2 linked regions of the Homo sapiens genome follow. The protein of the gene in region 1 interacts with the protein of each later gene in a biochemical or structural test. Each region holds a gene or a part of one and is shown in the gene's direction. Other genes may lie near its edges.

Region 1 (3,123 bases):
TTTTTTCCTCAGGTTTATGGAAAATTTACTTTTCGAATACCTAATCTGGTCCATTTCTATTGAAATTATAGGGTTGGAGTGCTATCCTTGAGGAATGAGAGAAGGACAAAGAACAACAGGCAAAGCAGTAGTTAGACTTTCCTGTACAAAGTCTACTTTAGGGTAACAAATTGTTGATAAGGGAAGGTTTTCTTTTTTAGGTAAATTCCAGCTAATACATGGAAAAGGAATGAGAAAATTAGAAAATCACGAGTTTGCTACTCCTCACGAAATAAAGGATCTTTTGAGGGAATGTTTTACATTTTATTACAAAAAATTTCAAAGTAGGCAGTTGGGAGGAGAATTAGCCATACTTTCGTCAGGAGAAAATCTTAGGTGATAATCTTGTGTTGGTTTTTTAGGTGGAAAAGGTTTATAAGAATGGGTGCCGTGTTATACTGTTTCCCAATGGAACTCGAAAGGAAGTGAGTGCAGATGGGAAGACCATCACTGTCACTTTCTTTAATGGTGACGTGAAGCAGGTCATGCCAGACCAAAGAGTGGTATGTTTCCAGAGGTGTTCTCCTCCATAGTTTAACCATCTCTGGAGAAAAGGCAGACTGACTGTGTGTCTTTACAGATCTACTACTATGCAGCTGCCCAGACCACTCACACGACATACCCGGAGGGACTGGAAGTCTTACATTTCTCAAGTGGACAAATAGGTACAAACTTGCTCCACCCTCTCATTAAATTCTTCCCTTCCTTCAAAAAATATTTACTGTAACAACTTTTTAAACAGAAAAACATTACCCAGATGGAAGAAAAGAAATCACGTTTCCTGACCAGACTGTTAAAAACTTATTTCCTGATGGACAAGAAGAAAGCATTTTCCCAGATGGTACAATTGTCAGAGTACAACGGTATGGCAACATTATGTTCACAGAAAAACCACTCAGTGTGACACCTGTTCATCTGTGCTCAGAAGGTGCCCCAGCCTTGCGTTTCTGATGATATGTGACACCCATATTAGGGGGTTCAGTTTGAATGAATGTCCCACAGGCATGTCAGTCAACTTGATGTGAATTATTTTTCACATTCTCCTTTTTTGTTCCATTCTTTCAAAACAGATTTTTAAGTCTGATCATGCCCCTTCCCAGGAATAACTAACTCTCTTCCCCACCTGATACAGAGCAAACAAACACTCAGATGGTTTTTAAATTAGTGAAAGAAGGGTCCCTTTTAATATAACAACCAAAAGGAAGAACACAAGTTGAAAAAAGTTACTAAGCATTTTGTGATGAAAATATGAATGATTAAAACAATGCTAATCTGATAATTGGAACTATCACCATGAAGCAGAAACACTGTAGAAAGTTACAATTGTATAGGGATAACCAAGGGATGTCTCCAGAAGTAGCTGCCAGACTCAAAAGGCTACTTTTCAGTAGTTTTTCTGTTGTTTATTTTCTATTATTTTTTTTTTAAGAAATCATATTTTTTTTAAATTTTACAGTGATGGCAACAAACTCATAGAGTTTAATAATGGCCAAAGAGAACTACATACTGCCCAGTTCAAGAGACGGGAATACCCAGATGGCACTGTTAAAACCGTATATGCAAACGGTCATCAAGAAACGAAGTACAGATCCGGTCGGATAAGAGTTAAGGACAAGGAGGGTAATGTGCTAATGGACACGGAGCTGTGACGATCCTCATGTGATCATGAAGTAACAGTAACTGACTTTTTATGTTAAAAAATGTACATTTACTGTGGATTCTGTTTAATTTATTGTGTATGTGTGGGGAAAAGATTAGATTCTAAAATAAAAGTTTACCCTGTGGCATCTTCATTTTTATATTCTTTGAAATGCAATGATAGCTCTCATTTATAATTCACTACCCTGTCTTTCAATAGACTAAGGAAAGCATTTTGACTGTTTAGAAATTGTGTACAGGTTTTTACAGTAAGTGGGTGTGTTTATTGGTTAGAAATGGCTATAAAAAAAAACCAAGAAGTACAGGAAGTACATCACCTAGATGTCCCACAGACACATCAGCCGTAGAGCACTGGACTTGTACAGAAGGTGTACTCAAGGAGTAAACACGTGTCTCTGTAGCCAAAATATTACTATGTTCAGTTAGTACCAAAATTAGACCATTTGATCTTCTACAGAGGATCATTAATTATTATAACAGAATGGGAAGTTACAACAGTGGATGAATATAAATAGGTCACACACAACAGGTAGTAATCATGGTGAAGAGAAAGCAGTTATAACAAGGCTGACTTTGTAATGTAATGTCTCAAAATGGGATACTTGAGAGTGGAGGGGGGCATGAACGATGACTAGCCAGTGTTAACCCATGGACCACAGCTACCCTGATGTTACCACAGTGAGATTACTGTAGCCTCATGGAAGCAAGATGTCCCTGAAGGATGGGCAAGTCACTTACTTACTTACTTGTAAATTTATATAATAAATAATTACAGATTGGTCTAGATAGACCTTACCTGTCACATATACTATGAATCAGGTTTTGTTAATGAAATCTATCAATTCCAGGTGACTTAACTGAATATGAAAAATAAAACTTTTTGAAGAATATAAGTACAGATGTATCTATATATAGATGTATCTATATATCTATCTATATAGATGTATCTATATCTATCTATATAGATGTATCTATATATCTATATAGATGTATCTATCTATATAGATGTATCTATCTATATAGATGTATCTATCTATATAGATGTATCTATATATCTATATAGATGTATCTATATATATAGATGTATCTATATATCTATATAGATGTATCTATATATCTATATAGATGTATCTATATATCTATATAGATGTATCTATATATCTATATAGATGTATCTATATATCTAGATGTATCTATATATCTAGATGTATCTATATATCTATATAGATGTATCTATATATCTATATAGATGTATCTATATATCTATATAGATGTATCTATATATCTATATAGATGTATCTATATATCTATATAGATGTATCTATATATCTATATAGATGTATCTATATAGATAGATATCTAGATATATAGAGACGGGGTTTCACCATGTTGGCCAGGCTGGTCTCAAACTCCTGACCTCAAGTG
Region 2 (7,040 bases), on another chromosome or scaffold:
ATGGCTAGTGTTTAGTATTCTTTTCTTCCTTAATATTTATGTTGTTTCTGTTAGAGTCATAAAGGGCATGTATATACAGCATGCAGTTTTCCAATAACACAAATGTAAATTATGTCAAAGTTCACATTTCTAAGCTACTTACAGTGAGCAGCAGGACTAAGCTTGAGAAGGCTCTTCCTGTGAATAAACGTATTTCTGTATATAGAGACATGGCAAAGGTGATAATCCTTGTGTATGACAACATTTAAAATTGTTTTGAAATACTAGTATATAATTGTATAGGTGACAAAACATGTTCACCACTGTGGTCAGTGCTTTTAGGGAATAACCATGTCTGATTTATTACTTGATTTAATGTTAAAAATCACAATTTCTCCATTAGCATTGTACAAGAAGAAGACCCAAATGAAGAGCTTTCAAAAGATGAGTTCATTCTGAAGTTAAAGGCAGAAGTACAGCGTTTGCTGGGTAGCAACTCAATGAAGCGTCATCTGGTGTCTCAGTTACAAAATGACCTCAAAGACTGTCATAAGAAAATTGAAGATCTCCACCAAGTGAAGAAGGATGAAAAAAGCATTGAGGTTGAGGTATGTAAAGCCTATAGAGTTAAAAAACCATTTTTAAAAGGCTCAATAAAGAAAACTTTTACACTTTTTTTTTTTTGAGACAGGGCGTCACTCTGTCTTCCAGGCTGGAGGGCAGTGGTGGAAACATGGCTCCCTGTAGCCTCAACCTCCCAGGCTAAAGCGATGCTCCCACCTCAGCCTCCTGAGTAGCTGGGACCACAGGCGCACGCCACTATGCCTGGCTAATTTTTAAATTTTTTGTAGAGACAGGTTCCCACAATGTTGCCCAGGCTGGTCTCAAACTCCTGGGCTCAAGCAATCCTCCCACCTCAATCTCTCAAGGTGTTGGATTACAGGTGTGACTAACCACATCCAGCCCTTTTACATGTTTTTAAATTAATAAACCTTTGGCTTTCAGGAGTTTATTTGACATTTTTAGAAATAAAGTTTAAAGAAGGAAATGCCATTTTTAAAGGGATACTGACAGTCCCTGACTTAGGATGGTTTGACTTACAATTTTTAGACTTTACAGTGGTGGAAAAGTTATGTGCATTCAGTAGAAACCATATTTCAAGTACCTGTAAAACAGTTCTGTTTTTTACTTTCAGTACAGTGTTCAATAAATTTCATGAGATATTCAACAGTTTATTATAAATGAAGCTTTGCATTAGATGACTTTGCATAACTGTTGGCTATTATAAGTGTTCTGAGCACATTTAAGGTAGGCCAGGCTAAGCTATGGTTTTAATAGGTTAGATGCATTAAATGCATTTTTGACTTAATGATATTTTCAACTTATAATGATTTTATTAGGTGATAAACCCATTGTAAGTTGAAAAGCATCTGTATGTTTTTTCTGGTTACTCTTGGCACCTAGTAAATGAGATACCAATTAGGTAAAATTCCTTTACCATAAATACAAGGAAGTATTCTCTGTAACAAGGAATCTGCATTTCTTTAAGATTGGCTTTTACCAATAGTGCTCTAAAATCTAGTTAAAATAAATCCTCCATAGAAATCCTGTAGTATTTTCTATGAGATTTTCCTGGCCCATGTTCTTACAACAAAAGTCATTCTATATGAGGACATTAATTATATAGTGATGATGGTACAGATATTATATAGTGGTCGTGGTACTATGGGAAAGTACACAAAATCTGGTTTTGTCAGTCATTGAAATCCACCTCTGTATTCTTCAGTTCGGAAAATGAAGCTGGAGCACTTTGTGACACTTTTGAATTTACAGAGCCAATTTCAGACAAATTGAAACTAAACACATGACTAATAAGTAAGTCAAAGATATTTCTGTAAGATCATGCTATCACAGAGATCTTTAGGGCTGCTCTCCTTTATAGATCCTTTTTTTTACCCTTCCATATTTCACAAATCATCAGCCATCTATACTCCCAATAGAAAATAATATATAAAACACCTAATAACTAAGAAAAGCAAAAGAAGAGGGAAAAGGAATGTGGGTAGTATACTCCTTTTCCTCCTGGGTGGAGATAATTGTTTACTTCCTTCTTTAGTACTGTTTTATCTCCTATTTAAACTAGGAGTTGTGTTCATTAGAACAGTTCTGCTAAAGTATGTATAATATTCTGTGCTAATTATTGTGGAATTTTGATTGTGGTTAATTTTTATATTTTGGAAAAACAGTGTTTTTGCTATCAAAATCTTTTCCAGCCTGATTCCCTCTTCTGAGTAACTACATTTGATGACTAAAACATAGATTTTAATATTAACAGCAAATGAGAGAGACTCCTCCCCGCCCTGCCCCCTGCACATTTAACATCTTTAAATCAAGCTGTTTTCATTGTTGCCCTACATTTCTTTAAAAGGATGGGAATGAAAGCTTGTTTCTCAATTTGCATTAAGACATTAGAGTTTATTAGTTTAAGCATTTTGGTGGGAGTGCTCTAGGATTTAGGATACTAGAAACCTGATTTTGAGTCTGAACCTTAGCTCAGATATCTTGGTGCTTTCTTTGTTCTGTATTAAACTTGCTAATGGCATTTGCTATACAGATACACTTTATCATGTGTAGCAGTAGATAGTGGTCATGCATTGTACTGTTTTTTAGCCTTCCCATTTTCCTCTGTAGTCTGGTTGATCAATAGATCAAAGGAATAACTATCTCATCTTTGAGTATTCTTTTTGTCCAGCTACTCTATTGCCATAGTGAATTCTCGGTAGTGTACATCTAAACTCCAATTTTTCTCAAAGTTACTTCAGCTGTGGACTCAAGTGATCTGCCCACCTCCACCTCCCAAAGTGCTCGGATTACAAGGATGAGCCACTGTGTTGTGGCAAAGAGCTCAGAGTCCAGGTACACAACAAGTGAAACGGAGTAGATATATTTTTAAAATCTTTGTAACCCCCATCAATGAATAAAAAGAAAAGTAGATAAGGAAAACTCTCAGAGGAAAATATGCAAAGTTAAATGAACAGATAAATCTGGGAAGGTGGAAAAACAAATGAACAATGAAGGTATATAAGAGGTTCCACTTTGGTGGTGACACAAGAAATACAAATGAAAGCAATTGTTAGATATTCTTTTCCCATCAAAGATAATTATTTAAAGATAATCACTGCCATTGGAGGCAAAGAGAGATGGGCAGACCCATGTACTACCTGACAGTATACATTTGGATGACATTTCTGGAAGGCAATTCGCCAAAGTCTATCATGAGTCTTAAAAATTGTATGTATTGAATAAAATATATGTCCGTGAGTGAATGCTGACATAAATGAATACATACAGAAATAGAATAAATGCTTGATCTTAGTAGGAGAACATATGATGAGAAATAGGATATTTGTATTGTCTCAAAGTATCCTATAAGATACTTATCATTTATTATAAAACAAAAAATAGTAAGTTTACAATGGAGATGACAGATCCCACCTTCAATTGATTATTACCAGTGGTGAGACATAGTGATATCATGTGTCTCCTGCAAAGAGCACATATCAGTTCTTGACATGCATGCCAAAGATGCATAACCTGATTTTAATAAACCTAAAAACTCCAAATTGAGGAACATCCCACAAAATAACGGGTTAGTATTCTTAGAAAACATCATGGGTTTGAAAGACTGAAGAGCTGTCCTAGATTGGAGGAGACTAATGAAACATGACAACTAAATGCCACTCAGAATCATGGATTTGATCTTGGACCAGAAAACAGACATTTGGGGCAAATTGGAGACATTTGTATAAGGTCTGTAGATTACTTGATAGTATTGCATCTGTGTTAATTTACTAGTTTTGATGATTGTGCTGTAGTTATATTGGGGGAAGATGAGTAAAAGCTATATGGAGATTATTTGTACTGTTTGCAATTTTTTTAAAGTATGGAAGTATTTCAAAGTGAAACTTAGAATTTTTTAAAACTTGTAAAACTTTTGACCTTTTAATATTCAGACTAAAACAGATACCTCAGAAAAACCAAAGAATCAATTATGGCCTGAGTCTTCTACTTCTGATGTTGTCAGAGATGATATTCTGCTGCTTAAAAATGAAATTCAAGTTTTACAACAACAAAATCAGGTGATTAAAAATATTTTTTATATTTTATGAGAATTTTTATTTCCTCATTAAATACAAAGGATATAATAGAGTTTTTGCAAATAAAGAGGCAATGTGAGTTAGTAGACAAGTATATTAGCAGGTGATTATGAGTTCCAGTTACTTCCCTTTGCTAGTGAACTGTTGGTTAGTAGTTTCATTGGAAGGTAAGTTAGTGTAGTTCCAGTTCTCTTTCTCTATGGTAGCATGGCTGACAGAGGTATTCTTTCCTCCTTAGCCAGCTCTTGACCCAGAAGTAAAACTTTGCTTATTTAGATGGTTGCTGAAGATTATTGAATTCTGAGACTTATTTTAAGGCATCAGCTAGCCAATACTTCTCTGGTTAAATATTTTCATTTTATATATTTCAAAGTAAATACAAAATTTAAACGTTTAGTCCTGTCAGAAAACTACTTGTCAAATAAATGAATCTATGTTCTTATCAAAGCGTGAAGAGACTTTTTCTTTTGCAGAATTGTAAAAATAATATGTCAAATATTGTTATAGGGGAGAGAGAAAGCATAGAAAATATTAAAAAATAAGACAAAATCAATCAGTGAAAATGATGTTTATTTTCTGTAAGTACTAAGTTTATTCTTTTGTGTCTAGGAACTTAAAGAAACTGAAGGAAAACTGAGAAATACAAATCAAGACTTATGTAATCAAATGAGACAAATGGTACAAGATTTTGACCATGACAAACAAGAAGCTGTGGATAGGTAAGGTCTATATAGATGCCTGACGACTGTCTCCTGGGTACCCTTCCCCTCTAAGTCCCTGCCCTTCCCTGTGACAAAAAGATTCAAAATGATTGAGTGATTTCTACCCTGTTGAGATCTTGGATTGGCAGAGATGAGTCCCTGGCTTCTCAAATTAGAATTTGGAACACATTTTCCATAGAAACAGTGTTATGTAGTGGGTTGGGTTCTATAGTATCATTGAAACTGTAGTTCACTGAAATATTATAGGTTAATATTTTTTTAAAGACTCGTCTGGGAAACTATTCTTTATAAAGAAAAAAGTCTGTGAGAGGGAATATGTCTTCCAAATACCAAATCATAAACTTGGAAACAGACTTCTGGAACATAACTTACTTGTGAGTTGGGGACTGCTAGTATTTGTGTTTAATATAGATGACTTGAAATTTTGGAGCCACACCCTCAATTATTGCCATTAATTTTTTATAAACAGAAGTCCTCAACATAGATTACTATCTCTATTTGAAGGACTGGGGCAGTCTCACATCCAAGTTTCTAATTGTTCTCTAGAAACATTTGAAGAAAGAAAATTTTGAAGATTCTCATAAGATTGTTGGTTATTAATTAATTATTACCACTTTCAGTTGGGGAAAAGTTATCTGACCTCAATTATAATTTGCATTAGAGGGAAGAGGTGAGGAGGAAGGAAGGAAACCAATTCATTTTGGTGTTCGTAGTGAGACTGGGCATTGCCTTTGATTCCGCTCTGTTTCCAGGTGTGAAAGGACTTATCAGCAGCACCATGAAGCCATGAAAACTCAAATACGTGAAAGCCTATTAGCAAAGCATGCTTTGGAGAAGCAGCAGCTCTTTGAGGCTTATGAGAGAACTCATTTGCAACTGAGGTGAGAATAAAGAGTTTAGCTGCCTTTTAAGCTGTAGAGACTACATTCCCCTATTCCATAATTTAGAGGAAAATTGTTTGTTATGCAGCTCTTGTATTTTTTTGTGGTTAAATCATTTAGTTGCTGGTTTTGTGTATCCAAGGTCTGAGTTGGATAAGTTGAATAAGGAGGTGACTGCTGTGCAGGAATGTTACCTAGAAGTGTGCAGAGAGAAGGATAATCTAGAATTGACTCTCAGGAAGACCACTGAAAAGGAGCAACAGACTCAGGAGAAGGTACAGTACAAGTTTATGTTGTATCGACATCCTTTCACTCTTCAAGCCTCAGTATTATCATTTAAACGAATACATTTGTTCTAGAGAAGTGAATGGAGAAGGTATTCATATGTTCTCTTTACTTTTGGCTGTATCACACTCATATAGCTCACAAATAAAATACAGTAATTACTGAAATGATTATTAAAACCTTAATGTACAATGGCATATAGATAGGAGAAAGTGATTTTTTTTTTCTTGCAGATTTATTCTAAAGGGCAAAAAAAAAAAAAGGATCAGTGTCACTTTAAATCTGAAAATCACAGATCCTCATTTTCGGTGTTGACTGTTCAGGAAACCCTATGTAGTCCTGTGAGCGCTGCACGGAGCATTCGTTCAGAGCCCTTTTTCTCGGATCCATTTCTTTCTCACTACCTCATTGTCATTTTATTCTTCTGGGGAGAAGAGTAGGAATTTGAATGTTGGTCTCGTGATAGGGAAAGTGATGATATGGAGGATATGGACAGCAAGGTCAGCATCTTCGTATGACCTCCTTCAGGGAAGCTGGAGGGGCTAGAGTAGATTCTCCAACTCTGCCTGATTCTTCTGAGTCACTCTTGGTGAGTGTCCAGGAGTAAAATCACATGTAAACAGTCACACCTCCTCTTTTCTTCCCTGTCCTGGCCCAGTGCCTTAACAGGCCTGACTGTCCTTCACACTTTGGACCAGCGGCAAACCACAGTTTGAAAGCTATCTGCCTCAAGATTAGAAAATATTTTTAAATGCTTAAATAAATGTTCTATACAGAGGTTTTTGAATAAGTTATGTTAAAGCAAGCTATTACTACCACACACTTAAAAAGAATAGTAAAGAGCAGGCGAGGAATTCAGTTCATTCAATATCTTGATTATTGTTGAATAGATTAATATGGTGAAAAATGTGCCATGTATACATATCATCTAGTGGAAAAAGAACTTCTAAAGGGAGCTGTTTTAGGTAGGGATGGCAGTATAAAAGTGAGAAAGGATCTTATATTACCTTGAAATT

What was found.
Region 2: the proteins of CPAP (region 1) and CEP152 form a complex in vitro, tested with the Homo sapiens proteins (one study listed by IntAct).

What each region holds. Positions count from the first base shown.
Region 1 is NC_000013.11:24,881,742-24,884,864, reverse strand, and holds the end of CPAP (centrosomal P4.1-associated protein), read left to right. Parts: intron 1-71; exon of another isoform or gene 72-162; intron 163-401; coding exon 402-542; intron 543-619; coding exon 620-704; intron 705-781; coding exon 782-902; intron 903-1,495; coding exon 1,496-1,688; 3' UTR 1,689-2,586; downstream 2,587-3,123. UniProt on the Homo sapiens protein: Plays an important role in cell division and centrosome function by participating in centriole duplication. Inhibits microtubule nucleation from the centrosome. Involved in the regulation of slow processive growth of centriolar microtubules.
Region 2 is NC_000015.10:48,766,034-48,773,073, reverse strand, and holds part of CEP152 (centrosomal protein of 152 kDa), read left to right. Parts: intron 1-382; coding exon 383-587; intron 588-1,784; exon of another isoform or gene 1,785-1,854; intron 1,855-2,901; exon of another isoform or gene 2,902-3,789; intron 3,790-3,992; coding exon 3,993-4,118; intron 4,119-4,745; coding exon 4,746-4,855; intron 4,856-5,610; coding exon 5,611-5,739; intron 5,740-5,881; coding exon 5,882-6,014; intron 6,015-7,040. UniProt on the Homo sapiens protein: Necessary for centrosome duplication; the function also seems to involve CEP63, CDK5RAP2 and WDR62 through a stepwise assembled complex at the centrosome that recruits CDK2 required for centriole duplication.